Homo sapiens: one gene and its partners. The gene in region 2 interacts genetically with the main gene of each other region. Each region holds a gene or a part of one and is shown on either strand. Other genes may lie near its edges.

Evidence for each region.
Region 1: changes in PTAR1 (region 2) and GOSR1 are lethal when combined (synthetic lethality), as found in Homo sapiens cells (one study listed by BioGRID).
Region 3: changes in PTAR1 (region 2) and RAB18 are lethal when combined (synthetic lethality), as found in Homo sapiens cells (one study listed by BioGRID).
Region 4: changes in PTAR1 (region 2) and SYPL1 are lethal when combined (synthetic lethality), as found in Homo sapiens cells (one study listed by BioGRID).

The regions. Positions count from the first base shown.
Region 1 is NC_000017.11:30,479,669-30,487,463, reverse strand, and holds part of GOSR1 (Golgi SNAP receptor complex member 1), read right to left. Parts: intron 6,322-7,795; coding exon 6,207-6,321; coding exon of another isoform or gene 6,201-6,206; intron 3,251-6,200; coding exon 3,163-3,250; intron 2,802-3,162; coding exon 2,694-2,801; intron 1-2,693. UniProt on the Homo sapiens protein: Involved in transport from the ER to the Golgi apparatus as well as in intra-Golgi transport. It belongs to a super-family of proteins called t-SNAREs or soluble NSF (N-ethylmaleimide-sensitive factor) attachment protein receptor.
Region 2 is NC_000009.12:69,749,217-69,757,011, reverse strand, and holds part of PTAR1 (protein prenyltransferase alpha subunit repeat-containing protein 1), read left to right. Parts: intron 1-6,061; coding exon 6,062-6,231; intron 6,232-7,795.
Region 3 is NC_000010.11:27,499,935-27,507,591, reverse strand, and holds the start of RAB18 (ras-related protein Rab-18), read right to left. Parts: upstream 3,289-7,657; 5' UTR 3,223-3,288; coding exon 3,155-3,222; intron 3,148-3,154; exon of another isoform or gene 2,868-3,147; intron 2,614-2,867; exon of another isoform or gene 2,500-2,613; intron 1-2,499. UniProt on the Homo sapiens protein: The small GTPases Rab are key regulators of intracellular membrane trafficking, from the formation of transport vesicles to their fusion with membranes.
Region 4 is NC_000007.14:106,108,736-106,116,569, reverse strand, and holds the start of SYPL1 (synaptophysin-like protein 1), read left to right. Parts: upstream 1-4,257; 5' UTR 4,258-4,358; coding exon of another isoform or gene 4,359-4,361; coding exon 4,362-4,430; intron 4,431-5,179; coding exon of another isoform or gene 5,180-5,257; intron 5,258-7,834.

The DNA of each region.
Region 1 (7,795 bases), on a different chromosome or scaffold from region 2:
ATTTCTATTATATCTCTGTGTAGTAAGCAAATTAGCCATTCGTTATGGTTTCCAGTATCAAGTCTTATTTAGAAAGTCCTTTCTGCTCCAAAGTTTACAAATTTCACCTCTGCTTTATGGTTTCTTTTTCTATCCTTCTTGGATCCATTTGGAATTTGTTCTGGATGTGAGGATTGAGATAGAATTGTTTTTTTAAAATCTCTGAATAATTAAGCAATGGTTATAGTTCCATTTATTTTATAATTTCTCTTTGCCCCACTGATTTTAAACAACATCTTTATCAGAAACTAAAAATTTCCAAACATAATTGGGTCTACATATAAACTCTGTTTAATTGTTTTTATTTATTTATTTTTTTTCTCTAGTATCAAACTGTCTTAACTATTCCAGCTTTTTAACAGGTTTTAAGATCTGGTAGAACTAGGAACCCTCTACCACTTATCTTCATTTTCAGGTTGTTTTTCTTGGTTGTTCTTGTATGTCTATGATTCCAAATGAACTTTGGTGTCATTATGTCATTTGTTTTTAATTAAACAAACAACGATACAACCCTGCTGTTTCCACTGGGATGTCATGCAATTTAGACGAAAGTCTTCCTATCCAAAAACAGAATGATTCTTTCCTTTACTTAAATCTTGTTCTATGTCCCTCAGTAGAATTCTGCACATACAAGTCCTACACATTTCTTATTTAATTCATATATAAATGCTTTATAGTTTCTTCCATTGTATTTTCTAACAGGTTATCATTTATTTCCTATCATAATAGGAAAACTATTTGCTTTTATGTATTCATTTTGTGATCTACCATCTTACTGAATTTAATTGTTTCTAACTTTTTATCAGGTAATTTTCTTGCGTGTACTAGACATATAATTTTATCCTGCTACCTCACAGAAATTTTGCCTCTTCCTTTCCAATATTTACATCTTTTTTTTTTTTTTTGAAACAGTCACTCTGTTGCCCAGGCTGGAGTGCAGTGGTGCAATCTCGGCTCACTGCAACCTCCACCTCCCAGGTTCAATGTTCAAGCTATTCTCCTGCCTCAGCCTCCCAAGTAGCTGGGATAACAGGCACCCACCACCACGCCCCGCTAATTTTTGTATTTTTAGTAGAGAAGGGGTTTCACCCTGCTGGCCAGGCTGGTCTCCAACTCCTGACCTCAAATGATCCGCCCACCTCAGACCTCCAAAGTGCTTGGATAAGAGGTGTGAGCCACCATGCCCAGCATACATTTCATTTCTTTTTACTGTCTAATTGCACCATCAAGAACTTAAAAAACAACGTTATACATTTGTAGCGATCATGGGTATCCTTGTCTTGTTTCATACAATGGGAATGTTTTTATTGCTTTCTCTTTAAACACAATGCTAGCTTTTAACCCGATAATACATTTTTGTATTAAAGTATCTTTCTATTCCTACTTTTTTTTTTTTTTTTTTTTTAGATGGAGTCTCAGTCTTGTAGCCTAGGCTGGAGTGCAGTGGTGCAATCTCAGCTCACTGCAACCTCCGCCTCCTGGGTTCAAGCTTCTCCTGCCTCAGCCTCACAAGTAGCTGGGATTACAGGCGCCCACCACTATGCCCAGCTTATTTTTATACTTTTAGTAGAGACAGGGTTTCGCCATGTTGGCCAGGCTGGTCTCCAACTCCTGACCTCAGGTGATCCACCTGCCTTGGCCTCCCAAAGTGCTGGGATTACAGGCACGAGCCACTGCGCCCGGCCATCTATTCCTACTTTTAAAAACAGTTTTTAAAATTAGAAATAGTTGCTGACTTTTCTCAATATTAAAAATATTTGTGGCTGGGTACAGCGGCTCATGCCTATAATTCTAGCACTTTGGAAGGCTGAGGGGGTGGATTGCCCATACACAGGAGTTAAGAGAACAGCCTGGGCAACATAGCAAAAACCTGTGAACACAGGAGTTAAGAGACCAGCCTGGGCAATATAGCAAAACCTCGTGAACACAGGAGTTAGAGACCAGCCTGGGAAACATGGCAAGGACCTGTCTCTGCAAAAGCTTTTAAAAAATTAGCCAGGCGTGGTGGCATGTGCTTGTGGTCCCAGATGCTCAGGACGCTGAGGTAGGAGGCTTGTTTGAGCTTGGGAGGTTGAGGCTGCAGTGAGCTGTGACTGTACTACTGCACTCCAGCCTGAGTGACAGAGAAACCCTATCTCAAAAAAAAAAAAAAAATTGCCTTCCTATTTGTACTACCATATTTTTAACATATCCTCCATTTAAATCTTTAAAAGTTTATTTAGTTTTATTGGTGCATACACATTTACTGTTTTCTTAAACAATATACTAAGTATAGTAAATAATTCCCCCTCCATATTATCTTCAAAGCTAGCTGAAAGTACACGCTTACCCACCACGTTATTGTCTATACATGACCATTGGCTATTTCACTGTTACAGCTAGCTAGCTAGGTCTCCCATAGTGGAAGTATATGTACCCAGTGATGAATATTACTCAACTTCGCCAAGAAATAGCAAGAGCTATTAGATATTTTCAGAATTTTATAATGGTGACCCCAAAAAAAAGTAAAACAAGTCCCTTTAGCATGGCATTTATTTTCTCAGATTTTTCTCTTTGTCCTTTTAAATATATGTGCACATATCCAATGCAGGGATTAAAAAAAAAAAAACCCAAACTCCTGTGATAATGAAAACATCTCGAGCCCAATATATTACCTGCAATATGTCTCTATGCCGCTGTAATGTATGCATCAGGGCTGCATTCAAGGAGGGGACACCTGCACTGTTGGTATATTCTGCCATTTTATCATTTACCCCTGTAAGCTAGAAATAAAGAAAAAAAAAACAATCAAAATATTTTACTAAGCACTATAAACAGCTAAAAGCAAATTATTTGCCTATATGCCCTTTTGGTTGACAGCAAAACAAAACAAAACAAAACAAAACAAAAAACAAACAAGAGAGCAAGTAAGAATTCAGCATTCCCCCACATAATCCATAAAGACCAAAATAACATCATATCACCTGAGAATGGCTGTCATCAAAATTCAAGTGGTGTGGGGAGGTACACATATTGAATGGAATGGATAATTTCAATAAACATGTCTGTCTCAATATAATCCAGGATCCTACGTAACAAGTATACAGTTATTTGCAAAATAGCCATTTAACAGAAAGCACTTACCCTTGCCAAAAGTTGTTCAATCTCAATCGCCATTGTCTCAAACATTCTGTCTTGGCTTGATCCATTTAAAAGGGGTGTTGTATCAGAACTAAAAAGAAGTTCAGTTAAAGAGGATCCATTACTCAAATCAGTCCTTTAAAACATACTTAAAATAATAAGGTGATTAATAGGAGCCATAAAATGAATTATGGATTATGTTATATAGGGTCTGTGAGAAACGATCTTTTACATTTTTACCCCAAAGGAATTATGGTTCCTTCAACCTCAACATTACATTCTCTCTTCTTTCCTTGACTCTTACCAAGAGGAAATAAGATTGAGGTTTAAATGATCCACAGATTGGATAACTAGCTAACGAATACTCAGGAACTGGCTTTAAATCCAATATATACAGCCATGTCCTGCATGCTTTGGTACTAATCTTCTCCATTTTCACTTACAGTATGCAATCATCCTTTTGTTTTGTAGAATTGTGTTAAATTGCCTTTTCAAATCTGAATAGTCAAAAATCTATCTTTTTACAAGTGAAACTTAGGTTTGACAGATTCAAATTCTAAACCCACCTGTCCTCAGTGTTTCTTTTGCCTTTTCCAAAACACCACTAACCTTCATCAGGTTAGGTATGTATTAGCATCTGATGAGCAGCTCAATACAGATCAGAGTTATACTGGACACAGATAAATGCCCAGGCAATGACTATAGTCTCCAATCTTACTGAAGACTTTGTGCTACCCTGTGACAGTGCCTGGGTGTGGCAAATGAAAAGTATTAAATAAATGCTCTGTAGACTACTAATATAAATCCTCCTCTACCAGATATATGAAAAAGAACAATATGCCAATAGAATTAAAGCTTCATGAAGGAAGGAAAAAACTGCTCTGTCTTATTCATAGATATATGCCTAGCACCTAGTATACAGCCTGGCACATAGTAGATGCTCATTAAACTTCTGCTGAATAAATGAATGAACACGAGAGCAATCTCTACTACTGGTTATTCTATACTCATTGTATTCATATATTCATCAGGACAGTGTAAGAGTAAAGGGAAATGGCCAAACACTAATTCTTCACAATACTGGGATTCAGTTAAATTTAATTCATCTTATAGGTGGGTAATGATTCATAGACCTTGAAGTTCTCAAAATACAGAAAGTTAAAAAAAAAAAAAAAAAGAAAGAAAGATGCCTGGAATAAATAATATTCTAGTTATTGCTTAGTTGACTCATAGTGACATGCTTCCAACCTGGGCATCAAACAAGACACTTTAGAATAGACATCAAATCCTGATCCTCATGGCCTTAGGTTTTTATTTAGAAGGGGAGTTAGGCTGAAGTAATTCTACAAAGCCAGTTTCAGTTTGTGGTAGAATTTCTTGGGAAATGTTTTCAAGATAGTTTTTCCTTTAGAGGAATAACAAAAGTATTAGTTCATGAAGCACACAGAACATAGAAAATGCATAGAAAGAACATTCTTCATTCTCTTTACTTGCTAAATAAAGCCAAGCCCAAAGCAATGCAATCTATTTGATGTGTTAGTAATTTATTTTTAGATCCTAGAGTCAATGTTGGCCTTGCTGCCTTTACAACCAAGGAGTCCTTATGAAAAAGAAATAGTAATTTGGCTATAGTGTTGAAATCAGCTTTTTGTTCAAATGTATACACTATAGTAGGGTTTAGAGTGTGGGCTCTGGAGATAGATCTAGATTCAAATCTAAGCTCAGATTTCATTGTTTTTATTAGCTGACAAATATCCTACTCACTTCTAATCTTTGAAAAAGTATGTAAAATAAGTGTGGATTAACAACAACTCTGCTACCAGCAATTTCACCGCTAGGTATATAGAAACATTCTGCGTAAAAATGTTCCCAGCAGCATTTATAGAAAGCTCTTACCTAACATATAATGAACACTCTTATGTCAGCTATCAAAATTATTATTAATTAGCAAAAATTAGAAACAATGGCCATCATCAAATGGTTAAACTGTGATAGTCATAAAATACTACATATGAATTACAAATGAATATACCAGAGTTAAATGAATCCATAGCTGAATCTCAAAAATGTTAAAGAAAAAGTTGTAGAATAACTATATTATATATATACTATATAACATAATAGAATACTATGAATTGCTCAGGAATATAAACATGCAGTAAGAATATATGTGGATTATGGGGTGGGAGAAAGTGGGGTGCCATAAGGGGCTTCAGTGGAATGAGTAATTATCATTTTTTAAAAATGGGAGATAGGGTCATGGGGGTTCATGATATTATTCTTTGTAACTGTCTTAAATATTGCCTAATTAAAAAATTTTTTTTTATTTCTATTTTTTTTAGAGACAGGGTTTCACCATGTTGCCCAGGCTAGTCTTGAACTCCTGGGCTCAAGTGATCCATCCGCCTCAACCTCCTAAAGTCCCGGGATTACACGCGTCATCTACTGTGCCTGGCTACTCCCAATATTTTCTTGAAACAAGTGGATGACTTACAGAGAGCATAAGCTTCAAAGATAAGAATGTATTTTCCATACATTTAATATGGTAATACACTAGTTTCCCAAAAAAGTACCAAAATTAAAGATAGCTTTGATAATTAATAACAAGGATACACAGTGCATTAGATACCCTCTAATACAATAAACACCAGAAAAGCAGTATGTATACCTGGCACCTGGGTAGATCCACAGGTCCATTTAGCAATTGAAAAACACAAGAAATACATGCCACACGGGCAAATCAGCCACCTTTTCCCTACACTGGCTGAATTAGACACTTATATTTTTGATACAAACTTATTCTGAAGTTCTAGCAGGTTTCTTCTGACACTGTAACAATCTTTGCCTAAGGATTCCAAATAAATGCTAGTCTCGAGAATTCAGAAGAATTTTAATAAGTCACTAAAAAATAAAACAATGAATGGCAAAACAAAACACCAAAAATTCACCAATAGACCAACTTACAGAAGTTATATATTTTAGTTTATTTTTTAATGCTTTAAAAACACAGTTAAGGCATAGGAGACAGAATCTGGTAGTACCTATACCTGTCGCGTCTTCCATCTCGGGTACTGCTATGACTGTAACTTGTACATAGTTTGCTGAAGGAAACTAGTTTCAGGTCAAGTTCATTTTCCAGCTGTCGAGCCTGTTTCCTGAGATCTTTAACAAAATTATAACAACAAATAATTAGACATAAAAAGTAGACACAAAAATCACAGCACCATTCTAAAGAAAACAAACTATGAAAATGATCATATACTGATCTTGTTACCCCCATAAAGAAAAGTGTTGGCTGGGCACGGTGGTGCACGCCTGTAATCCCACCACTTTGGGAGGCCAAGGTGGGCGGATCACCTGAGGTCGGGAGTTTGAGACCAGCCTGATCAACATGGAGAAACCCTATCTCTACTAAAAATAGAAAATTAGCCAGGTGTGGTGGCGCACGCCTGTAATCCCAGCTACTCGGAAGGCTGAGGCAGGAGAATCGCTTGAACGCAGGAGGCAGAGGTTGCGGTGAGCCAAGATTGCGCCATCGTACTCCAGCCTGGGTAACAAGAACAAAACTATGTCTCAAAAAAAGGAAAATAAAAGTCTTAAAAGAAGGAAACCAAGGACTTGCCCAGCAAAGCAGATTAGTCACTTATAAACTTCAGAGGGGGCAAGAAGGGAAATAGTAATGGTAGATGCAACTTCGCAGCTTTACTCCAAAGATGGCTAGAAAACAAATGTTGTTCTATCCTTCCTGAAACTATTTGTATAGCAATAACTAAAATTCTGCAATTCAGAGAAAAACAAGAAGATAATACAAATCACAAAGGAACTAAAAATATGGTTTATGACCAGCATTATCAACTTACCAGTTAATGTTATAAGAAAGAAGCCATTATTCTTTTGAAAGGGATTTTGCTTTTTATGTTCCAAAGCTTTATTAGGCTTATGAACTTCTTTTCATAATAGCAAAATGACTTACCTTTTTTTTTCTTTTTTTTTTTGAGATGGAGTCTCGTTCTGTCACCCAGGCTGGAGTGCAGTGGCATGACCTTGGCTCACTGCATACTCCACCTCCTGGGTTCAAGCAACTCTCATGCCTCAACTACCTCCCAAGTAGCTGGGACTACAGGCACACACCACCATGCCTGGCTAATTTTTGTATTTTTAGTAAAGACGGGGTTTCACCATGTTGGCCAGGGTGGTCTTTAACTCCTGACCTCAAGTGATCCACCCACCTTGGCCTCCCAAAGTGCTAGGATTACAGGTGTGAGCCACCACGCCCGGACCAAAATGACTTCTCAATTGAACATAAAGAAAAAAAGTTACCACAAAAATTGCCTTTTTCTTTCTTTTTTTCTTTTCTGTTTTTTCTCACAATGTTGCCCAGGCTGCTCTCGAACTCCTAAACTCCAGTGACCCTCCTGCCTGGGCCTCCAAAAGTGCTAGAATTACAGGCATGAGACATCGCACCTGGCCAAAAACCGCCTTTAAAAAACTTACTGAGGCCAGGCGCAGTGGCTCACGCCTGTAATCCCAGCACTTTGGGAGGCCGAGGCAGGCGGATCATGAGGTCAGGAGATCAAGACCATCCTAGCTAACACGGTGAAACCCTGTCTCTATTAAAAATACAAAAAATTAGCCA
Region 2 (7,795 bases):
TGTGCTGTTCCATATGGTAGCCACTAGCCATAGTAGCTATTGAGCAATTGAAGTGTCCCTAATATGAACAGGGACCACATTTTAAATTTTATTTAATTTAAATGGATTTGTACGTAGTGGCTCCATGTGCCTAGTGACTACTGTGATGCATAGTGCAGGTGTAGATGAGACCTAAGACTAACTGCATGAACAGTAAATTAACCCTCCAAAGTAGTTTATAGTAAAAGTTGGATAGGAGCATGATGAGCAAGTGCTATGGGAGTCTAATAGAAGTGGAGAGGAGGCTGGTTATGTCTCGGATAGGGGTGCTAGTGGAGGTGGGTTTTAAGCCAAGTATTAAAGTCTGGGTAGGATTTGTAGTCTCAGAGGGAGCCAGAGACCTCCACAGGGAGCAGTGAATTGACCTAAACAAGCAAAGTGTGGCTGAGAAGGTACAGTAGGGCCAGATTATGGAGATCCTTGACTCTCATTTAATTTCTTTCATTCCATTCATACATTCTGCAAAAGAGTACCTCCATTTGACAGGCACAATGCTGGTCTCTGGGTATACAGGGTTAAAAACTGGGTGGTTTAATGAACAAACCACACATGGTCCCTATCCTAATGGAACTTTAATCAGTCAACATACAGATTATGAAAAGAGTCATAAAAAGTAAGAAGGGTACTTAGAATAAAAACAGGGAGACCCAATTTAGATTATAAGGTCAAGAGGTTCTTTCTGAGGCAATAGCATTTAAACTGAGTGAGACATGAGGGGTGAAGAAAAGCTGGCTCAAGGATGTACACTTCTAAGGCAATGGGTAGGCACCAGTGAACATTTTTTAGTAAAGAATGATGAAAGGCAATTTTAGATCGTCTGCAAGGTGAACTGAAGAATAGAAAGCCAGAGTCTACTGGGCTTCTTATACCTGATTTTTATTTATTTAAATAATAGTGTAGTATAGTTGTAAAAATTTGAGTTTAGAGTTTGATAGTCTAAGCTGTCAAACTGGATTTGAGTCTTTGCTTGTCGTTTATTAACTGAGTAGACTTAGACAAGACTCTTCCTCTGTAAAATGGGGTCAAAATTCCTACTTTATGAGATTATTGTGCAGAATAAAATATATGTAAAACCTAACCGTGCATGGCAAGTAACAATAAACACTAGTAATTTGTGTAGCTTTTTCTAAATAAGGTCAGTAATATAATTTCAGTGAAACATAAGTTGATAATCTTTGGAATTAATGAGAAAGCCTATAAGGTTTCTGAAATATCTAAATCACCAGGAGAATTTTAATTATCAATATGCAACGGTCAGTTCCTTTAGATATATTTTACTAGCTTTCCTTTTTGGTCATGCTGGAAAGAATTCCAGTTCTTTTGGGGGGTGGGAGCAGAACAAAATGAAAATAACTACTATTTAGATTTAAAATGTTTTTACCATTTCCTGAATCCTTGGACTGTTTTCTGTTTGGTTGCTCCACACTATAGGATTCAGTTTGAGTATTTGGGTACCATCCATCCCTCCCAGAAGGTAAGCTGGTTGATGCAACTTTTGTGGATAATAAGTGGCTCTGTTCTGGTTGATGGTGTTTCTGAGAAGTATAGACAGAGAAGCTGTCTAAACATAAGGAACAAAGTCAGTATCAGTGTTACATGAACTGTGAACATCATCTGGAAGCCAATGAATGGATCCCTATTGTGAAGTGAGGCGCTCAAAGAGATGTATCATACTTTGATCTTAAGTAAATGTGCTGGTTCGTTCCACATTGCTCTGCCTTTGGAGCAGTCTGTGATGAAGGTGACCTAAAAAGTGAGCACCATTAGAACTTGATTGCTGTCCCAAACCATCATATCTTTAAAAATCCTATGATCTTCTTAGTTATGCAGGTAATTGAATACCTTGTTAAATACCAGGAATGTAAATGGCCAGAAACCTAACAGTGTAAAAGAGTGAAATTTATTAGTAGTTCCTCTCATAAGACTATTTTGTAAAGAAATAACTAGAGATATGTTTGATATTTATAGCACATTCATTGCAACCATTAAAAATATCAAAATTGATTATGTGGGAAAATGTTTAATGGGAATTGCTCAGTTTTTTTCCATAAAGGATTATAGAATATGTTCAATATGATCCCACTTTTTGAAAATACTCAGGAAAAAAGGATGTATACCCAGCTGGGCACAGTGACTCACACCTGTAATCCTAACACTTTGGGAGGCTCAGTGGGAGGATCACTTGAGGCCAGGAGTTTGAGACCAGCCTGGTCAACATAGTGGGACTACATCTCTACCAAAAAAAAAAAATATATATATATATATTAGCTGGGCATGGTGGTGCATACCTGTAGTCCCAGCTACTCAGGAGATCTGAGGTGAGAGGATTTCTTGAGCCCAGGAGTTGGAGGCTGCAGTGAGTGAGGATTGCACCACTTCACTCCAGCCTGGACGACAGAGCAAGATCCTGTCTCAGGAAAAAAAAAAAAAAAAAAAAAAAGATATATACCCAAACATGTTAATAGCAAAACAGGGATTACAAGTGACTTTTAGGGTTTTTTTTGTTTTGTTTTGTTTTTCCTGAGTTTTCCAGTGTTTCTTTAGTATGGAATTAGAACTTAAATTTCCAGAAAAATAGAAGGAATTGATCTAAATCCTGTTTTGCTCTTTGTTCTAGTGTCAGGGGTTTGGGGCTAAGTATTAGGAGGCCCAGATTCTTAACTTAGCCACTAGCAATATGACCTTAGATAATCCTCATAAACCTCACTGTACCTCAGTTTCCTCATCAGATGAAATGACAGAGGAATGCAGTCCCTTCCAACTTTAAAATGATTTTGGAAGGAATCCTATTCGAAATTGGCTAGAAAAAAGTGGACTGTGACTTAAGGGATGAGACACAGAAGTCTGAAGTCAAACACACTATTATTTGGAAGCTTACTGACCTACCTATGTTTACAAAGTATGTGTAATGTTTTTTAGAAAGCAGCATAACACTGTGTCTTAGGGTCACATAACTTGACAAAGGCTTAAATTCTTTGCCTCGGCTTTCCATTATTAACCAATGAACTCTACTGGTGGATCTTTGTCTAGCACTTCATAGTTTGCCACATTTTCACATGACATTATTTGGTTTCCATAACAGGCAGGGAAGATACTATTCCTGTGTTTCAGATGAGGATACTGATGGCAAGTGACTTGCCGAATTCTCATTGCCTGTCAGTGGATAGAATGGAAACTAACTAGAACTCTGGACTTCCAATCAAGTACTTTTGTCTTTACACCCTACTACCTCTTCATGTGTTTTTCCCCCTAGTGCTCTACATTATCTGTTAAGACTGTTTTTATTCTCCTCACATGAAAATAGCTGCTAGGTTTCTCAGTCATAAAATTTGAAAGCTGGGTGAAATCTATCCCATTTGCCTTACTGGAGGTATAATACAATTCTACCATTTTACAAATGAGGAAACTGAAGTCTACAGAAGCCAAAATGACCTGATACTGATATGTATGTATATGTGTGTGTGTATATATCTATTTCCATCCAGGACTTGGACACATGCTGTTTTCAGTATACTTTATTAGGAGAAAATCAGAGATAATGTTCTTTTAGAGGGACAAGAAGTGAAAACTATTAATTTGAATATTATCACTAAAGTACCAGGATAATCAGCCTTTCAGGAAGCAGCTATTGGGCACCTGCTATATCCAAGCCATTCTTATTTTATAAAGTATTTCTTGAAAGAACAGACAGTCAAAGCAGTGTGTTTTTTAATTGTGCAGATGGCTCTTTTCTGTAGTTTAGATACCAAATTATTAGCTGGGCATTTTAATCCTAGTTTAATTAGTGAGCAAGACAGGTTTTTATATTGTGAATTTAAGTTTAAAAAAAAAATCCCCCCCAAAAACAAACCATACCCAGAAACAGGATTCTTTTATTCTTGTTACTATAACAGTTATATTGTTGACTCTTGCAGTTCTTTGAAGTGTTGTAAGTAGGTTATTATATCTCAGAGAACAGAATTTCCTGAAATAATCACATTGAGTTTATTTACTTATTTAGTTTTACTTTATTTTTTAATATTCTTCATGTAGTAAAACACAAACATCAGAAAATACCAGAGATTCAGTCATATATTAGTCAAGTATAGCTAGATATGGCTAGGGGTCATAATAATGAATTAGATAGATTTCAGGATACTACCAAATAGAGATGCACAAAATATATTTTGAAATACTGGGCATTGACCTCAGGTGCTCTTTCAGCTTTGTCCTTATTCTTCCTACAGGACTTTGTTTATATTATTGGAGTAGTAAAGTGGTAACATTTTATTATGGATATTGACACAGATCCCCAGCAAGACTTTAGCTCTTTGAAGTCTGAGACCACTTTGCTTTATTCTTTTTGAATTTTAGAACCTAAGAAAGCACCCAGTACATTGTAGTTAATCAGAAAACTTATGATAGTATTGATATAGTATATCAAAACACCTTTGAGTCAACGGAACCAATTGTAAGGATAAAAACCCATAGATCCCACAGTCTTCTTGAGAGTTAAATTAGCTTGAAAGAATTGTTAGTGTCTTGCAACCCCTAAGATATCCTTTTTATTGATAAATCCCTGTGCCACTAATGAAGTGATCAGTAGAAAGTAGATTACCTCTAAGCTATTCAGTTTAGTTTCCAGGAGGGGTTTTATTTTAAATCCACAGCCTCCTACCAATTTGTGATAGTGGCCCAACAAAAAGACAGGGTGTTTCTCCTACTTTGTAATTCAACCAATTTCCCTCTTTTGGGTCTATCAAACCACTGTGTTCTTGGTAAGGGGATGCCAGGGACATAATACATAATGTCACACACAAACTCTGAAAACCAGTTCATTATTCTGCTTTTTAAAGACATGTTTAAAATATCTATATAGACACTCTAAAAACATTTATTTCAACTACTCTTATTGTTAAAAAGTTTCTTGTTATTCATTAATTAAACAGAGGACATTCTGTTTGAGAAAGGATCCTTTGTGTAGGCAAGAATTATAACTTCCTTTAGAGTTGAAAGGCATGTGAATGTGTTTTGCACAAATTTTTTACGTTTGCTGGTTCATTTACTAAGTAAGTCAAATGCCCTACATATTGTTTATTAAATCTCTGCCTTTAATGTAAATTTTCAGCTTAAGTTGAGGTGGATTGAGGGATATAGATGCTACCACAGAGGAAAATTATTGAATTCTGAAATGTATTTTGTGTTTTAACATTTATTTGGGTGGTTTTTTAATTCAGGAAAATATAAAGAAGAAAAAATGGCCCAAAATCTCACTGATAAAATAACGTTTTTTGATACTTTGTTTCTGGTCCACATGCATTTATTAGCAAGCAAGCATAAACACATTTGTTGACATTAAAAAAATAGAAATACATACAATTATTAGATAATTGAAACTGTATAAAAATAAAATCCTTCCTTACCACCTTTCTCTCTCCAAAAATTTCTTGTTATCCTTCCAAGAAAATTTTTAATGCATCTATATATCTTCTAAAGAAATTATACAAAAGGATTTGTGCTGTACACTGTGTTCAGCATTTTGCTTTTTGTTTTCATTTCATATATCTTGGCAACTTTTTTTATGTCAGCATATGCAGATCTACCTCATTGTTTTTTAATGGCTTGATTATGTGGATGGGCCTTTTTTTTTTACTAGTCTTATATTGATAAACATTTAGATTGTTTCTAGTTTTGTTGCAACATTGCAGTGAACATCTGATTCACATATTTTGGCATAGGATAATTTCTGAGCAGTTGAATTGCTGGATCAAAGGGTATGTTCCTTCAAAATTTTGAAAGACTTTTTTTTAAGTTGCCATCCAAAGGCAAGACCAGTTTTCACTCCTGTCTACAGAGAGTACAGCATACTGGTTTTCTCATACTCTTGCCACTATTAGCATCTACCAATCCCAGTAAGTGAGCTAAATAATATTTGTAAGGAAGGGGGAAATATGTGGGGTTTTTAAAATACTCTGAAATTAGAAAAATGTTGAAAAGGTTAGTATCCTTATTTTTAATTCTTTTTTATGTTTTACATATTAAGAGATGAAATTGGCCTGATCCCATGTCCTGAAGCTAGGTATAACCGGAGTCCCATAGTCCTGGTTGAAAACAAACTGGGTGTGGAGAGCTGGTGTGTCAAGTTCCTTTTACCATATGTCCACAACAAGCTCCTTTTGTACAGAACAAGAAAGCAATGGCTGAACAGAGATGGTAAGTATGAATCATATTTTCTTCATTTGGTTTTTAGAAGCGACATGGAATATAGTAGGAAGAGCCCTTCTCTGAGTGTCAGCATTCCTGGATTCTAGTTCTGCTTCTTCTGTTCACTGTCTCGGTGGGTGCTAACCTTTCTGTCAAGTGAGTAGTTTCTACTCACCTGGACAAATTTTACAACCACAGTGATTATATAGAAGCCCTCAAGCAGAATTTCAGGGCACCTCCTGTAACCAGAGCAGTTCAGATTTTATCAGTTTATGTATTGGGGTCATTGGTAAGATTTCATTTGAAGGAAAAAAAAAAATCTGAATGTCACTGAAGAAGACTCTAGTCCCTATAGGCTCAGTCTCTGGTTTCTAATCCTTTAGTATTTTTATAGGCAGCAAAACTCATTTTCATAGTAGTCCAAATGAGATAATGTAGGCATGATAGTGGTAGTGATATTATGAACCAGCCCAGTGATTTATGGATGTGCCATTCCACTGCAAGTTCCAGTTGAGCTCTGGCCGTTTGTATCCTGTTCCTGTGCTGAAATGAGCAAAACAAAACTATCCGGCATTCACTTCTTCCATTTCTCTCAGACAGTTTTTTTTTTTACTGCATCAGACAATCCCTAATCATTCCATCTGGTCTCTTTTCTTGGTGTTCTGCCATATTAAGCCTCCATGTGCACAAATTCTGTTTATCATTGTATGCCCACCTCAGGTCTCACTTTTTGGGAGAAGACTAATTTAAGACCATGTCCTTTACTGTTTTTGTAAAGCTTCTTCCCCTTCCCATGTACGGCAGTACCTTCAAAAGCGCTCAATATGCCTGGAGGCTGATTTTGAATAAGAACTTTGTTTCCTAGAGAATTTTAGTTGCCAGTTTGGTAGCCATTACCAAGGGTCTACTCATACCAGATGCTGTCCTGAGTACTGTGGGGGATAAAAAGATGAATAAATACATGGTCCCTTTATTCAGGAAGCTTACAGTTGAGTGATAATCTCTTTGGGGGCGAGAGATGTACAGAAGAGTGTTGCCTAATGTATGACATACTGATTTCCTTGAATTTCTGTCAGCACTATCTGTAACATACTGTCATTAATTGGTTAATAACACTTTTCCCTTTTTATACCATAGAAAGGGACTCTGAAGGTTTAATGAGCAGTGTTTTCTATTTTCTGTGTGACTGTTTCACTCAGTCCTTTGTTATATATTTTCTTATTAGAAGGCTGTGCCTAAGTTTAGCCATAGCCCAAATTTATGGCATACACTTTAAGGCATGGGTTTAGGGATAAACTTAAAGGTAAGCAAGTTTATCTGTTGTTAGACCCTCTTTAATTCTGCATTCCATCACCGTGCTGTAGTTTTCAGTAACACTGAGGTAAAAAGTAACACCATATGACTCCATCAAGTTATTTTTTGCCAAACAAAGCTGTACTGTTTATATTCTGGTGCACAGAAATGCATAATCGAACCAATGTATAACTAACTTTAGTTAGGGGATAGAATGATTATCTTATAGAAAAGAAACTGAATTTTAAAAAGTGAGAGGCTATAGTTGCCCATTTATGTA
Region 3 (7,657 bases), on a different chromosome or scaffold from region 2:
ATTTTTTAAATTTACATATGAAATTCACCAAAAAAAAAAAAAAAAGGGAAGGCAAGGGGCAAAGGAGGGACAGCAATTTAGATAATAGGTCTCTCTAATCCCTTCCAGTTCTTGATATATTCTGCTACTCTTTACCTTACCAGGCCTAGCCACAGAATTGGAGTCTTACACATTTAGGGTCTGAGAGGTTTCTATTCCAACCCCCTCGCTTTTGAAATGAAGGCCTACAGCATTCAAGTATCACACACAAGGTCACACAAGTGGCAGCCCCAGTTTCATAATCCTGATCTCCTGACTACTATCACATACCCTTTAGACTCTAACACTATGAAATCACTAGAAAGTAATCCACTAATTCGGATTAAACATATCCTTTGTTTTCCCCAACAGCACAAGTGCTATCTCACTTCCACTAGCTCCAGCTCTGTAATGAAATAGAAACAAACTTGGTTAAAACAATCCTTTAAGATCATATCCACAGCAAATGTTTTTGTACTAATTCACTTTAAAAGGCATAGACTTCTATTTCAGTGGAGTCATTTATTCTCATCTTATCCAGAGTGTTTAAGATTGTTTTCCACAGCATATCACACAGGCCAATAATGTATATCTAGCTAGACAAATAAGACAACTTTCTCACTATATGTAATCCTTTCACAAAAGAAATAAAGTGACAAAATCCTGCATCGAGCAGTTGATAATCCATTGCTACGTATTGAGGAAAAAGTTTAAAACAGATTAGGCCCACGGTAAATTTGTTTCTTTGTTTCGGTGGCATGAACTAGGGAGACTGATAAATCCACTTAACAGGCCTTACTCTACAAGGAGAACCTCGGTTGGGTGTCATGCCTTGTGTCTGTAATCCCAGCACTTTAGGAGTATGAGGCAGGAGTTTGGCTTGAGCCTGTGTGTTGGAGACCACCTGGGCAACATAGGAAAATCCCATCTATGAAAAAAATTTTAGAAGTAGGGCCGGTTGTGGTGGCTCATGCTTATGTTCCTAGCACTTTGGGAGGTCAAGGCAGGAGGATCTGTTGAGCTCAGGAGTTCGAGACAGCCTGGGCAACACAGTGAGTCCTCCTCTCTATAAAAAATAAAAAAACACTAGTCAGACATGGTGACTCGTGCCTATAGTCCAGCTACTCAAAAGGCTGAGGTGGGAGGATCACTTGAGCCCAGGAGATTGAGACTGCAGTGAGCTATGATCATGCCACTGCACTCCAGTCTGGGTGACAGAATAAGACCCTGTCTCAAAAAAACAGCGGGTAGAGCAGAGGAATTTTGTTTATATACTCCAGTTAACCTTCCAGAAAATTTTAACATACCCTAACTTGTCATCCATGCAATACATTTAGAAAAAGTGCTAACCAACCATGTATTGGGTTGAACTACATGAAATGACAACCAACCATTCTTGACTTCAAAAACACTAATTTCATATGCCTGAACTTAAATGAGAACGATATCTCAAGGAAAAAAGGAGAAAAGAAAAAGAAAGATCACAAGGCTGTGAAATTCCTATTAAGACAACGTTTAACTTTTTAACACTCAAATATGTATGTGCAATAATAGATGATCATGTAAATAATTTTACTCATGCCTTTTACACACACACAGACAAATCATGCTGGTTTGCTAACTCATAGTATTTCATTATTCTATTCCTTGGTATGTGCAAATCCTTCATTCCAGTAGACACAGAGGACATTACATGAGGAACACTATGAAAATGTGTTGTCAAACTGGTGGCTCACGCCTGTAATCCTAGCACTTTGGGAGGCCGAGGTGGGCGGGTCACGAGGTCAAAAGATGGAGACCATCCTGGCCAACATGGTGAAACCCCATCTCTACTAACAGTACAAAAGTTAGCTGGGCATGATAGTGCGCGCCTGTAGTCCCAGCTACTCGGGAGGCTGAAGCAGGAGAATCGCTTGAACCCGGGAGGCGGAGGTTGCAGTGACCCGAGATCGCGCCACTGCACTCCAGCCTGGCAACAGAGCGAGACTCCGTCTCAAAAAATAAATAAATAAATAAGTAAATAATATCAGAATATATTACATAAGCTTTCAAATTCTGAAGAAGCTTTTAAAAAGTAAGACTTTATGAAGTGACTTTTACAAGTTATTTGAGGAGAGCTTTCATTCTAGTTTGTAGAATTAAGGCTATTTCAATTTATGAAATACAAAAAATTATTTGAAAGATACGTGTATCAGAAGGTATAGCTAAAATATGAAACTGATTACAGCCCCTGGAGTGCAAATGTGGTTTAAGGATCAGGACGGCCTTGAACATAACCTACTCATAATCAGATGGCAAGAATGACATCAGCTGGAGAACTCTCTTCCAAGACCTGGATGAAATCACAGCCCTCTAGCAACATCCACCTAGATCCATGTCTTACCTTATACTCAACTCCACTGTCAATATTATTTTCCCCAAGGAAAAAGTAAAAAATGAAAGCACAACACTAATCTTCTGTCTCCACAGGATGTGGCAAAATGAGAAATAACAATTACATTTTATTTTCAAAGGTGGCCCACGGCTGAAGCACTCGGACCTTACACTAAAGCGAAATTTTCCAGCAGTCACAAGATCCAGTTCTTTCACAGCCGACTAATAAAAAAGTAAAAGAATCGACATTAAGCTGCGCCCAAACAGGCCAGGAATGGGACCTAAGGCGTCACGAAACTTCCCGAGGACATTATGTATTTAGAGAAGGCCCCACAGAAACCCTCAAGTGGGAAAGCTATGTCTCCCGGGTCTCGGGGTGGCAGGCAGCCTGAACCCCGAGAGGTTCGAGGCAAGGCGCCCCCGGCCGGATTCGGGCCCAAACCAGCCCGCCACGCCCTGAGCTCCGCGCAGCAAACCTGCCGGCCGAGCGGCGGCCCTCGGAATGGTGTTTTCTCGGCGCTACAGGAGGGAGAGCGACCCAGAGAACTTGGGCCTGGCAAAGGCCGGGAACCAGGCAGGCGCGGGTGGGGAGAGGAAAGCAAACGTCGCGGGAGAGCGCGGCCCAGAGGCCGAGGAGGGCGCGAGCGGAGCCGGCCCGAGCCCGCCGCTGCAGTTTACAGTTCCCGTCGCGGCCCAGGAGACAGCAGCCACCGGGGCAGAAAGAGCCCAGCCACCCTCGTCACGACCCGCACCTCCGCCTCACCTGGACTTGCCCACCCCACTCTCGCCGATGATGAGGATCTTCAGGGTGGTTAGCACGTCCTCGTCCATCCTGACCCCGTTCCGCTCCGAGCCCAGCTGGCCGCCCGGGTGCGCCTCTCAGCCCTTCAGCAGAGTGAGCTGCTGCGCATGCGCGCCGCTCCACGTCTGCCACCTTCCTTTCACACCGGGTGTTCAGGCTGCCGAAGCCCTGGACTCCCCAGTTCCGCCTTGAGGTAGCTCCACGGCTGCGCGACCCAGAATCCCCGGCGTTTTTCCGGACTGCGTGTTCCTCCCCTGCGCAAGCGCAGGTGGGGAGCGCTGTGTGTGACTTTGTTGGCTTCTTCTTGAGGTCTAGCTCCGCCCCAGCCTCAACCTAACCCTCCTTTTGAGTCAGTGGGAGGACTCAGTCAGGAGAATATCAAGCTGTTTTATTTCGGCAGCTGCTCATAACAGCTGCACTGCGGTGGGAAAAGCACTGTGCTTGAAGCAGATTATCTTAAATTTAGGTCCAGCTCTACCTTATAACTGCCTTGTCATACTACCCAGCTTTCTTAGCCTTTCTCCATCTCTGAGAGACACAGTAACACTTCTTAGAACATCTGCTTCTTATTGTTATGAAGGTTAAGTGAGTTAATTTGTGAAGACATGTTGTTAACCAAAGTGCTCTATAAAAGGTGTGATCAGGTATTATCTTGCTGGCTTCCCCTCTGTTATAGTGGAGAGCACCCTCTGCACCCTAATTCATCTTGAAAGGGAGGCGTAGACTTCAGGTAGGTCAGGTGCATTACTTCTGGCGGTGCAACTTCAAGTCAACTCTCCTTCCTCATAAGAACTGCTACACCCATACTGCAGGAAGTGTATGTCTACACCTTGCCTCCTGCATTAAGTTGTAAATCTTAGTGAAGGTACCAAACCTCATTCATAATACTTAGCACAGTGCCTGGTACATGGCAGGCACTCAATAAACCTCAGTTCTCTTGTCTTATTTCCTTATACCTGCAGCTAATGTCATATACAATGGATATTTGATTAAAGACTACATATAAATAAAATTTCAAATGTTAAGAAATTAATTTGTTAAATAGCTGGAAAAGCCCTTTCAAAAGATATCCCAATGGCTTCTCCTCCTTCAGGTCTTCGCTCAAATGTTGCATTCTTAAAGAGGCCTTCCCTGTCCATTCTACTGAAATATGCAAATCCCTCCAGCATTCTCTAGACCTCTTTACATTGTTTTTCTGCATAGGATTTAACCACTCTCTGATACACTATATATTTTACTACTTTATTAGAAGTCTCATGAAGGCAAGGATATTTTGTTTTGTCTACTGGTATGTCTTCAGTATCTAGAGTACTTCATGGCACATAATATGTGCTAAATAAATGTATGCTGAATGAATTAATTGAATGAATGTTGTAGAGTCCATTCCTAACCTTAGAGAATAATGTCAATGAAACAACCTCCACTTCTCATCAGATAGCCCTTGAAACTTCAGTCAAGTCTATCTAGCTTACTTTTCATTATGACAAAAAGATCTTATTTATGAGGTTCACAGTATTGTCAAGCTCTCCTGCCCTGGGGTCCCGAGATCCCTAGAAATCCCTGAAAACCTTTCAGGGGGGTTGCAAGATCAAACTATTTTCATAGTTAATATGTTATTTTTTCATGCACATTCTCTGATGATAATATAATGGAGTTTTCCAGAGGCTATATATTAATAACATGTAATAGCAAAACAGATTGAAGGCAGAACAAGATATGTGAACTTACTGGTTTTCTATGATATTAAGCCAGATATTAAAGGGATTTCCTAAAATGTAAAACATTGCCACTGTTCTCAATTTTGTTCTGTTTTAAAGTAGTTATTTTCATAAACATTTCTATTAACTGGTAATAGGTTTATTATTGTTTTTAAGTAAATTAACATGTTTGAAATTTTCTCAGTTTTAATTTCTAGTAGGATAAATAAGAGATGTAATCTCTTTGGGGTTCTTACAATCAAAAGCTCTTTCAGGTCCTCAATGATTTTTAAGAGTATACTATAATTTGTACAACCAAAAAGTGTGAGAACCATTGCACTGTGCTATTCACACCAAGATAAATACAAAAACAAAAACTTCATCAATAAATCCAGGGCTATCTCTTGCAACCTGTAATACTGTTGACGTACTTTGGCAATATCATTTTCTCTTGGATTTCCTCCATCTCTTGGCCATTTCCTCTCTTTCTTTTTCTTTTCTTTTCTTTTCTTTTTTTTTAAGAGATGGGATATTGCTATGCTGCCCAGGGTGGTCTCTAACTTCTGAGCTCAAGAAGTAATCCTCCTACCTCAGCCTTTGAGTAGCTGGAACTGCAGGCATGCATCACCACGCCTAACTAATTTTTAAAACATTTTTTTAGAGATGGGGTCTTGCTATGTTGCTGGTCTCAAACTGCTGGGCTCAAGCAATCCCCCTGCCTCGGCCTCCCGAATTTACATCTCTGGCTGAGATTTTTCTCCTGAGGTTCAGGCCAACATACACAACTGCCAAGACATCCCCACATGGGGGCTGGCAATAAAGAGATGTACTTAAAAGACACAATGAATAACTGTCCCATGCTTAGTGAAGAAGAGGGGAAAGAAAAGGGAAAGAAAAACATCGAACATTTCTCTAATGTTTCAAGCCTCGGCACTACCAATCTGAGAGAAAACCCAAGACAGAAACAAGAAGGAATATGAGTTTCGTTTCAGCCATAGTGAATTTTATGTAAAGGTGAGCCTTGAAGGCAAAATTTTTCAGACCTCTTTTAGAGCAGTGGTTCCAAGATTCAGGACAGATAGCAAGACACTAAAAAAATGAACCAAGGAGATGGCCTAGGTGTTCTAACCAACAATTTGGCCTAGGTGTTCTCTTCTATATACTATTATCCTTACATCCCTGGAAAACACAGCCAAATCCTTTCTTAGGTTTCAGACATAACTGACTGCCCTTTTCCCTGTGGATCCATCTTCTAGTATTAATTATTTTTACCATATCCAAATATATGATCACCTCATAAAGGAATGTCTATGGCAATATTCTTAATACCTGAAGTTTGGGATGAGCAATGAGCAAGCCCAGTATGTAGGAAGAAATTGAAATGGCGAAACCACTTGGAGATGTGATGGAGAAGGCCCATCCCATGTTGCTGTCAGTAACATGCCTACAGTGGGCAGCCCCAGAGATAGACAACAGATGAGAGAAAAAAACAGATTCAGGCCTTTGACTTTTCTCCATCCTTCGGCATCAGTAATGAAGATAAGAGAAATGCTGCTTGCAGAACTCACATTCTGTGAACAGGTACCAACATGAGCACTGTGACTCATGGCTTATGTAGGACTGCTTGGGTCCAAGTGTAACAGGCGTCTGTGGCTAGAGTTTAGGAGTTGGTAGTGAGAGAAGTCATACAGCATTGCCACCTCCGCCCCCAGCTCCATTGCCCCTGGCTGAGCTGAGGTTCCGAAACAACCCCCACCCTCTCCAGGTACTGCTTCTCCTTGCCTCGGTTGATATGCACAGGAGCTTTGGTATGCAGTCAAGGAAGAGATTACTTTTTGTTGTTGTTGTTGTTGTCGTTAGAGATAGGGTTTCACTATGTTTCCCAGGCTGGACTCAAACTCCTGGGCTCAAAAGATCCTCTTTCCTTAGCCTCCCAAGTGGCTGGGACTACAGGCACATTATACCATGCCTGGTTTAAAGAGGAGTTCATTTCGTTGTTTAATTATTTGGGTGAAGGCTTGGGGATTTGAGAGAAGGGTTAGAAGTAAATTCTGTGGAAAAGGTAGCTGAAATGTCATTTTGACCACTTGGGTGGGGTTTTAGCCCTATGATTAGAGGGGTCAGGGTCAAGAGCTGGAGTAGCTACTTTAGGCTTGCAGCCTGACACAAGCAACTCTGTCTGAGGGCCCGTGGGACAGGATAGCTGGGGCTGAGAAGAAGGTCATTGCACTATTTTTTCCATTTGACCCAAGACCCTTTTCCAACCTTCTCTGTTACAATCTATATAATATCACCTTCTACCAAGGAACTTATTTTACAGCAGAAGTGTGGCTGTGGGCTCAGGCATGCCCTTGGACTTCACTGGTGTTGTCACCAGACCCCACTTCAGGAAGCAGCTAGTATGATAGACAATGGGATGGCCCATTGCCCACTCAGTTAAGGTGGCAGCAGGGAGATAATATTCTGTAAGGTTGCACTGCTGCTCTATAGGATGTAGTAAAAACTTTAAACCTGCAACCTACAAATGATGCTGTTTTCCTAATAAAATTCACAGTCAATGAGGAGCATCTGACCTCCTGGATCATTACATGTTTCTCTTATGTGACTCCCACCCTGGCCCTAGCACTTAGTGGGCTATGGTAACATTATTTTCTGCCTTTGCTTCCTCAGATCTAGGGTGGAAAAGGCTGCCTACTGAAGTTAATTTCTGGGTTCCTCACTTTTTGGTGGCCCTAACCTGGCCATGCTGCTGTAAATAGTCTTTTGG
Region 4 (7,834 bases), on a different chromosome or scaffold from region 2:
GCAGTTGGAAGATGAGACCTTTAACCACATGCCAAAGATTAGTCATTGTTGCTGTCAGGGTGTGAAGAAAGGTAGAGTCCTAATTCAGGAGAAGGAGTCAGGCTGGCAGGACCAGGGGAAAGCAAAACGAGAAAGCAGATAGATAAGCTATAAGTCTGCCTTTCTTCATGGTCCAGGACACATAGCCCTCATGTGTAAATCACTCACAATCTTCCTGTGCCGAGCTACCACCTGACTCTTGGCTGACAGAAAAATGCAAGTTAGCTCACTGCAACCTCGGCATTACCAATACTGCACAAAGTCTTCTTCAAGCGCAGAGCACAAGCACCATCCTATAAAATCCCTAGCAAGCTTTTGACTCTTTGCAGTCAGCTCCTCTTTCGCTGACCTGCCTGTTGCACCCTTGCAATACATTTTCCTACGTTCTCAAATAAATCTGCCTTTCTTTACCTACGACTGTCTTGGTAAATTCTTCTTACTGCCTGTACCACTGGCCCCAGATAGTTTCTGATCACCTGTGACACTCATTACATTAAATGTGGTTTCCTGGATTGGATCCTGGGGGAGTAAAAAAGACATTAGTGGACAACTGATGAAGTTTGAAAAATTCTTTAGTTTAGTCAGTAGTAACACATCAATACTAATTTTTTTTGTTTTGACAAATGTATGATGGTTATAGAAGATGTTAACATTAGGGGAAACTGGGTGAAGTGTATACAGAACTCTTTGTACTTTGCAATTCATAAATCAAAATATGTTTTAAAATGAAAAGTTTAAGAGGCCTCAGATTACTTTGAGATTAATTTACTGAGCCTATTAAATCCATCTATTGTACAATTTAAATAAATTTGGTTATCTTAAAATTTTTCTAAAATGATTATTGAATTCATTAGCGAAAACAAAACACCTATTTGTGTTTATAAGCAAAAGTCAGGTTTTGAATTTGGTATTAAACAATATCTTTTCAGAAAAGGAGATAAATATTGGTTGGGAATGAGTTACAAAGTCTCATCTTGCCAATAAGATGACCAAAACTTTGTATTCCCATTGAGAAAAACAAAAAATATTATAGTTAGCCAATGAGATGTCTAATATAGTTAATATATGGTTGACTAAATATAGTTTCCTTTCTGGCCTTCTGAGCATTCCTAAATCCCAAGTGTCACAGTCTGGCACATGTGTTCAAAGCCACAGAGAGAAAGTAAAACAATGACAAATTATGTAGGTAACTTAGCCATAATTATACCACCACAGATAAAGCTCAATAATACTACCTCAGATAGACAGAACCATTTTATATTACAGGGATTCTTTTCCAAATAGCCCTGGTAGAGTAGACCTGGAACATGTTGTTCCCAGAGCATCTGGCTCTTTCCTCAGATTTGAGGAACAAATCAGAAAATGACCAGTGTTGTAGTCAATGTGATACAGTCATCTGAACATTCTTCCCTGATTTTGAACAGTTGTGCCTTCAATGAGATGCTATTGTTTAAACACTTTTGTTTGAGGAGGATTTAAAAAAAAATCACAATTATCTTGTTGCCCAATCAGATCTCACTGGCTCTGCCAGTCACGGCCAGTTCCTTCTCAGGAAGGTAGGCCCCTGAGCTCAGCTGACTGGCAGAAGCAGTGCTAGGCTGTGACTGAAGGTGAGCAGTGGCGGCTCACTTCTGTTTCCTTCTGCTCAAGAGAGATTCTGCGAATGAGTTCTGATAAGTGACCAGATGTGGTTCTGCTCACCCTCGGTGGTCTCCATCTTTAAAATCGAGTGCCACAGGGCCAAGGAAGGAACCTTCTTAAAGTTCAAGGAGTTACTCTAGCACTGAAGGTTTCCTGAGGAAATGTAACCACCATGCCTTCCACTGGTGGGCTTGAACAAGAAGCAGGAGAGAAAGTGAGGAGAGGCAGACAGAAGCAACAGAAAGTTTAGCGCGGAAGTTGAGAAAGGGCCTGGCCAATTCCAATTTCTAAGGCCTTCAATAAACAAAAAGAAGAAGAGATGCCAATATTGGTTTACTAAGTCATGGTATGTTTTAGATCTTTAATTAATAAAGCTGCATGTGAACATATCTCTAATCTGTCAAGGCATATCTCATTTTGAAATAACATTAAGAGCTGGGCGCGGTGGCTCACGCCTGTAATCCCAGCACTTTGGGAGGCCGAGGTGGCGGATCATGAGGTCAGGAGTTCAAGACCAACCTGGCCAACATGGTGAAACCCCGTCTCTAATAAAGATACAAAAAAATTAGCCGGACGTGGTGGTACGTGCCTGTAATCCCAGCTACTCGGGAGGCTGAGGCAGGAGAATCGCTTGAACCCGGGGGTGCAGAGGTTGCAGTGAGCTGAGATCACGCCATTGCACTCCAGCCTGGGTGACGGGGCAAGACTCTGTCTCAAAAAAAAAAAATAATAATAATAACATTAAGAGTCTAATTTGAATATTCGTGAATATGAAGCTCAAGCTAAATAGTCTTACTATTCACTACTCCGTCCCCAGGTGCCTACCCAGAAGACCGCAACAGAATGAGAGTAAAAGCTTAGAAAAACGGGCTAAAGAGAACAAAAAGAGAAGTACTGAGAGGAAGATACAGAAACAAAGTAGAAAAAAAAGGAGAGAGAGGAAGCTGGAAGACCTGGAGCACCGCTCATCGTGGTCTCAGACGCACCAGGTAGCAGTGTATGGTCACCTTCCACTCACCTAGCCCTAAGGGGTATCTATGATGCTTTGTTGCTTAGTGGGAGAAATCTGCAACCATCCATTAGGAACCCGCTGCAACCCCCCCACCTCCCGGTTCAAGCGATTCTCCTGCCTCAGCCTCCTGAGTAGCTGGGATGACAGGCGCGTGCTACCACGTCAGGCTAATTTTTTTGGTATCTTTATAAGAGACGGGGTTTCACCATGTTAGCCAGGTTGGTCTTGAACTCCTGACCTCACGATCCGCCGGCCTCGGCCTCCCAAAGTGCTGGGATTACAGGCGTGAGCCACCGCGCCCAGTTCTTAATGTTATTTCAAAATGAGATATGCCATTAGGTGCTCATTGAGCACTGACTGTGCTGGGGACTGAGGAACGGGAGCCAAGATAAACATAAAGATTGTCTCTGTCTGCATAGAAAATGAAATGTATTTTTTGCACTCTCTGGACAGCAAACAAGGAGATAGGTCTCGAAAGAGAAAGGGTTCGCTTACTACAAGGACGTTCAATAACAGTTGTCAACCCTGACGGAATAACCTCAGTGGCAAGTAGCCTGCAAATCATATTCGTGCTTGAAATTCAGGTAAGTCCTTGGAAGCTGGTTTTTCATATACACGAATATGACCACATTCCAGCTGTCCAGGAACTTTCCAGGTACTGAAGAAGCCAGGAAGGAGATCACACTACCTTGGGGCTCCCGTAACTGCGTGCCAAGAGGAAAGTATCACCTAAGCCGAATCTTAAAGGGGTCAGCTTCTTGAAGAAAGATACCAACGATGCCTTAAAAAGAGGACTGTCGACCGACAGCGTAGAAGAGGTGAAAGTGTAGGTCACCGAGGGCCTGTCCGGCCACGCCTTTCCTTTTAGGTATAAACTTACTTCATTTTTCAACCATGGCTGCGATGGTAACTTTGAAAATAAACCTAATTTCCATACGAATATTTGGTGATTCACACTTTCGAGGCACCCCACAGCACGGTAGCCAGAAGTCTGTTGTTTTGCAATTTTAATCAAAGGCCCCTAACACATGCCTTGAAACACAACTTCATCTGTGCCAATACATTATAAATTCATAAAAAAGTTGAGATCTGTTAAGGGAAGGAGAGGTCAGCTTCGGTGTAGTGAGCTCAGCTGTGGTGAGCTCGGGGTCAAGTGAGGGTGTCTCTGAGGCCAGCGCCCCCAAGCTGCGCAGGAGCGGGCGTGGGCGCCCCCGGGTCAGGGCTCTTCGCAGTCGCGCGGGTCCGGAAGCGCGGCGCGGGCCCAACGAGCGCACGCGTACACGCGTGCGCAGGGGAAGACCGAGTGCCAGGGGCTGAACCGCAGGGAAGGGGGCGCGGCGCACGCAGTATGGCGCCCAACATCTACTTGGTTCGCCAGCGGATCAGTCGACTCGGCCAGGTGCGGCCTGAGGAGAAGCCTCCCGGTCTCCGCCCCGGCCCGCCCCTCGCCTCCCCAGCCGCCCCACTCCGTTTCCGCCCCAGAGTCTCAGCCAGCAGCTCAACCGCCGCCGCTCCGCCCCGCCCCGCCCCACGGCCGCCCGGGCCCGCCTCCGAGCCCGGCCAGCGCGCCAGCCCCGCCTGCCCTTCCTCGCCACCGGGCTGCTCTGGTCTCGTCGGTCCCCTCCTCCGCCCCGTCGTCCTGACTCTCTCTCCCTCCTTTCCTCAGAGGATGTCCGGCTTCCAGATCAACCTCAACCCGCTCAAGGAGCCACTCGGCTTCATCAAGGTCCTCGAGTGGGTGAGTGCAGCCCGCGCCGGCCAGGCCCGCCTGCCGCTCGGCGCGGCGCCCTAGGCGGGGAGACGGGGACCTGCGAGCCGGGACGCAGCCCTGCCGCGCGGGCTTTGAGGCCGCCGCCCCGGGACTGGGAGTGGACGGCAGGGAGGGCAGGGAGGCCGCGGCCTGGGCCGCGCGGGGCGGAGACGCCGCGGCGGGCGTCGAATCACGAGCTCCTCGGCCGCCTGGCTCCCAGGGGAGCCACCCTCCCACACCGGAGCTCCCCTCTGGGTGTCCCCGTGGAGTGGGAGTTCAAATTTCCCCTTGGCTCCACTGCCTCCCGCAGAGGAAGGGAAAACTTCCTGCTGCGGTCTAACCGAAACCCGGCGGCCGGCGTCGCGCTCTGCGGAGAGGCTCAGCGGTTACGTCCCTGCCGGTGCCCACTCGAGGTCTAGCTCCCTGGGAAGCCGATTTTGTCTTGTAGACGTGATTTGGCGAGCATTCCGTTCTTAATTTGTTTTTAAGATGGGCTCCGAGTTAAAAATAGTAAAAAAATAAACTGTGGGCCAGGGAAACTAAAGAAAGTCCTTTTAACAAAACGCATCGAGTCAGATCGGTTCACTTAATAACACGTTAGGAATGGACATCGAGTTTGTTTGGGGTATTTCCAAACAACATCCTGTTTAGAAAGTCAGCTTTTAGTCCTTTCCTGAGAACACTCACAATCATTAACATCAAAGAACGCTTATTAATTCGACCTTGGCAATGATCAGTTACTTGGAGGAGTTGGTGAATATACCAGGCACTGCGGGCTTCCTTCAAACTTCGCGGCCCACTACATATTTCTGCAGGCAAGTTGTGTTTATAGACAGCAGCATTTACATCCATAGCTTTTTCGCCCTTTTCCTTAGTGATAGAGTGGTGAAGAAGAATAAGAACTTTCAATTTCCTGTTCTAAATAACCTACCGAGGATGTTTTTAAAAGCAGCGTAGAAACTCAGTTTCTCTGATGGGTACCTAATGTGATTTCCTACTTGGACCATTGTAACCGCGCAAGGGGTTAGGCAATTTCACCATTCACTGAACATTTTGTGTGTTTTCTGAAAACTGAAGTAGTGCTGACTTCACACAAATGACTACTTGAAAGACGCATAAATAAATATACTTGATTTTTTTAAACCTAAGTCCAGATTTAAGTATAAAGAAAACCATGATTAAAGCATTTAAAAATTGCAAGAGGAAAATCTCATTAACGAGGCTAATCAAATATGAACGTTAAGAAAGTCTTATATCTAGATTTAGTCTCATTGAGGATTATAATTAAATGTATAACTAATAATTTAGATTTCCACTTAAATGAAGAGGCAGTTGTTTATATCTGTGCTTATATTTTTTGTCAAGTTTTTAAACAACTGTAGACTTAGCTTTTTCCTTAATATTTCAAGCACTAGTGATAAGTTCATTCGTGTTTTGATGTATTTTGAAAAATATCCCTTTTTAAGCATCTTACAGAAATACTTTCAGTTTGAACAGCTTGTTATTACACAGGAGAGCCTTTTATGAAAAGACTACACATTGTTAATGGTGTGGTAAATATTTGACTATTTTATACCAGATCTGTACTAAACACTAGCATACCACATGAATAAAACATGGTCTTTTTCTCATGATCTATTAAGGATGAAGGACATACAAAATACAAAAATGCCATGTAATAAACTGTGATAAAGGTGTATGCAAAGAATAGTAGAAGAAATGAGGGAGAGAGCATTTGCTTGGAGGAACTAGGGAGGACTTCATAGCTGAGAGAACACTTGAAGGATGGGTACTGGTTCACTTGGGGAGTGGCTTTCTAGGCAGAAGGAATCTTATGTTCAGTGGAAGGAAATGTTGAAGCAGCATAACCCTGTATGAGAACTTAAAAGTAATTGGGGGTTAGTTGGAATATATGCTAGGTTGGAGGGTACGGTTTGAGATTGTTCTGAAAAGATTTCAGAGGTCGGCTGCTTCTGGGGTTAATCTTTGGGAATCTGGGCCCTTTCCTTAGGAAAATGCATATGTGCAGGGTATGGAATATTGGAGTGTTTATTCCATTCAAGCCCAGAATCCCTGCCATAGGGGATGGGAACTTAAAGGCTTTAAACAAGTCAATGATACGACTAATTTTAGGCACTCATAATTCCTCAATCAATCGATTTCTCCCTCCAATTCTGACCTTTCCAATCCATCCCTCTAACTGCCGACAAAATGAAAATTTCTAAAAGGATGAATTGGAAAGGCTAGAATTGGAGGAAGGGAAATCTGTTGATTGAGGAATTATGAGGGCCTAAAATTAGTTTCAGTAGGACTGAAGGGGTTTACAAAAGGGGGTTACAAATTAGAATATATATGGAAGGTAACAAAGAGGGAGGACCCTAAGATGACTGCTGTCTTTCTGACTTCGTTGCCATTAGCATATTCAAGGTAATGTCATTAAGAGGAGGAGGAGCAGATTTTATGGGAAGTCAAAGGTTTCAGATGTATTGAGTTTGTGGTCTCTTTAGATCTTTTGGAGGTATCCTATAGGATACAGCTATATATATGGATCTAGAATTTAAAATATGAGTTTGGGCTGCAGATATAGCAGATATCTGCCTGCAAAGGAGAGAAGGAATGGTTAGGAAAATTGAGGGAAATAATGCCTTGGCATCACTATTAGAATTTCAAGAAAAGAGTACCCCAAAACGTAAGGTGCAATAGAATGGTAAAGTAAAATAAGGACTAGTTGATAAAATAAGGACTAGTTAGCAAGAGCAGTTTCAGTAAAATCAAAAAGCCAGATTTTAGTAGGCTGAATGAATGTGTGGTAAGAAAGTGAAGACAGCATAAACCGCTGTTTGACTGTGAAGATGGGAGAAATTTGGTGGTTACAAAAAAAAGCCACTAGTTCAGCTTACAACTCAGTTGCTTAAATGCATTCTCTGGAGACAACCATTGTATTTGGTATGCAACAAAAGTCTTTATTTGCATTTCCCATTTTATCCTACTGACAAGAGAACTCAAGGGTCAAGGTTTAATAAAATTTTTACTGCTTCATCAGACATTCTTAAGTAAAACTGGTGGGGGTTTTTTGTTCTTTTTTGTTTTTGGTTTTTTGTTTTTAACTGCAAGTATGTGGCAGTGAAATAGAGTTTGGTATTCTTCCTGATTCTTATTAAACCCGGCAGTTTTCCCCACCAGTTTATCTGCTTCATCAGTACAAATGTCAGCACAGTGTAAAAGGCAAATAATGTCTTAGTATCGTTAGGAAAATGTTTTACCTTCATGAACTCCTGAAAGAGCCTTGGGAGCTTTCAGGGGTCCACAGACCACGCATTGAGAATTGATGAGGTAAACACCACTGGGGACCAGAAACAGAACAGAAAATACGGCAGGGAGAAAGACTATTC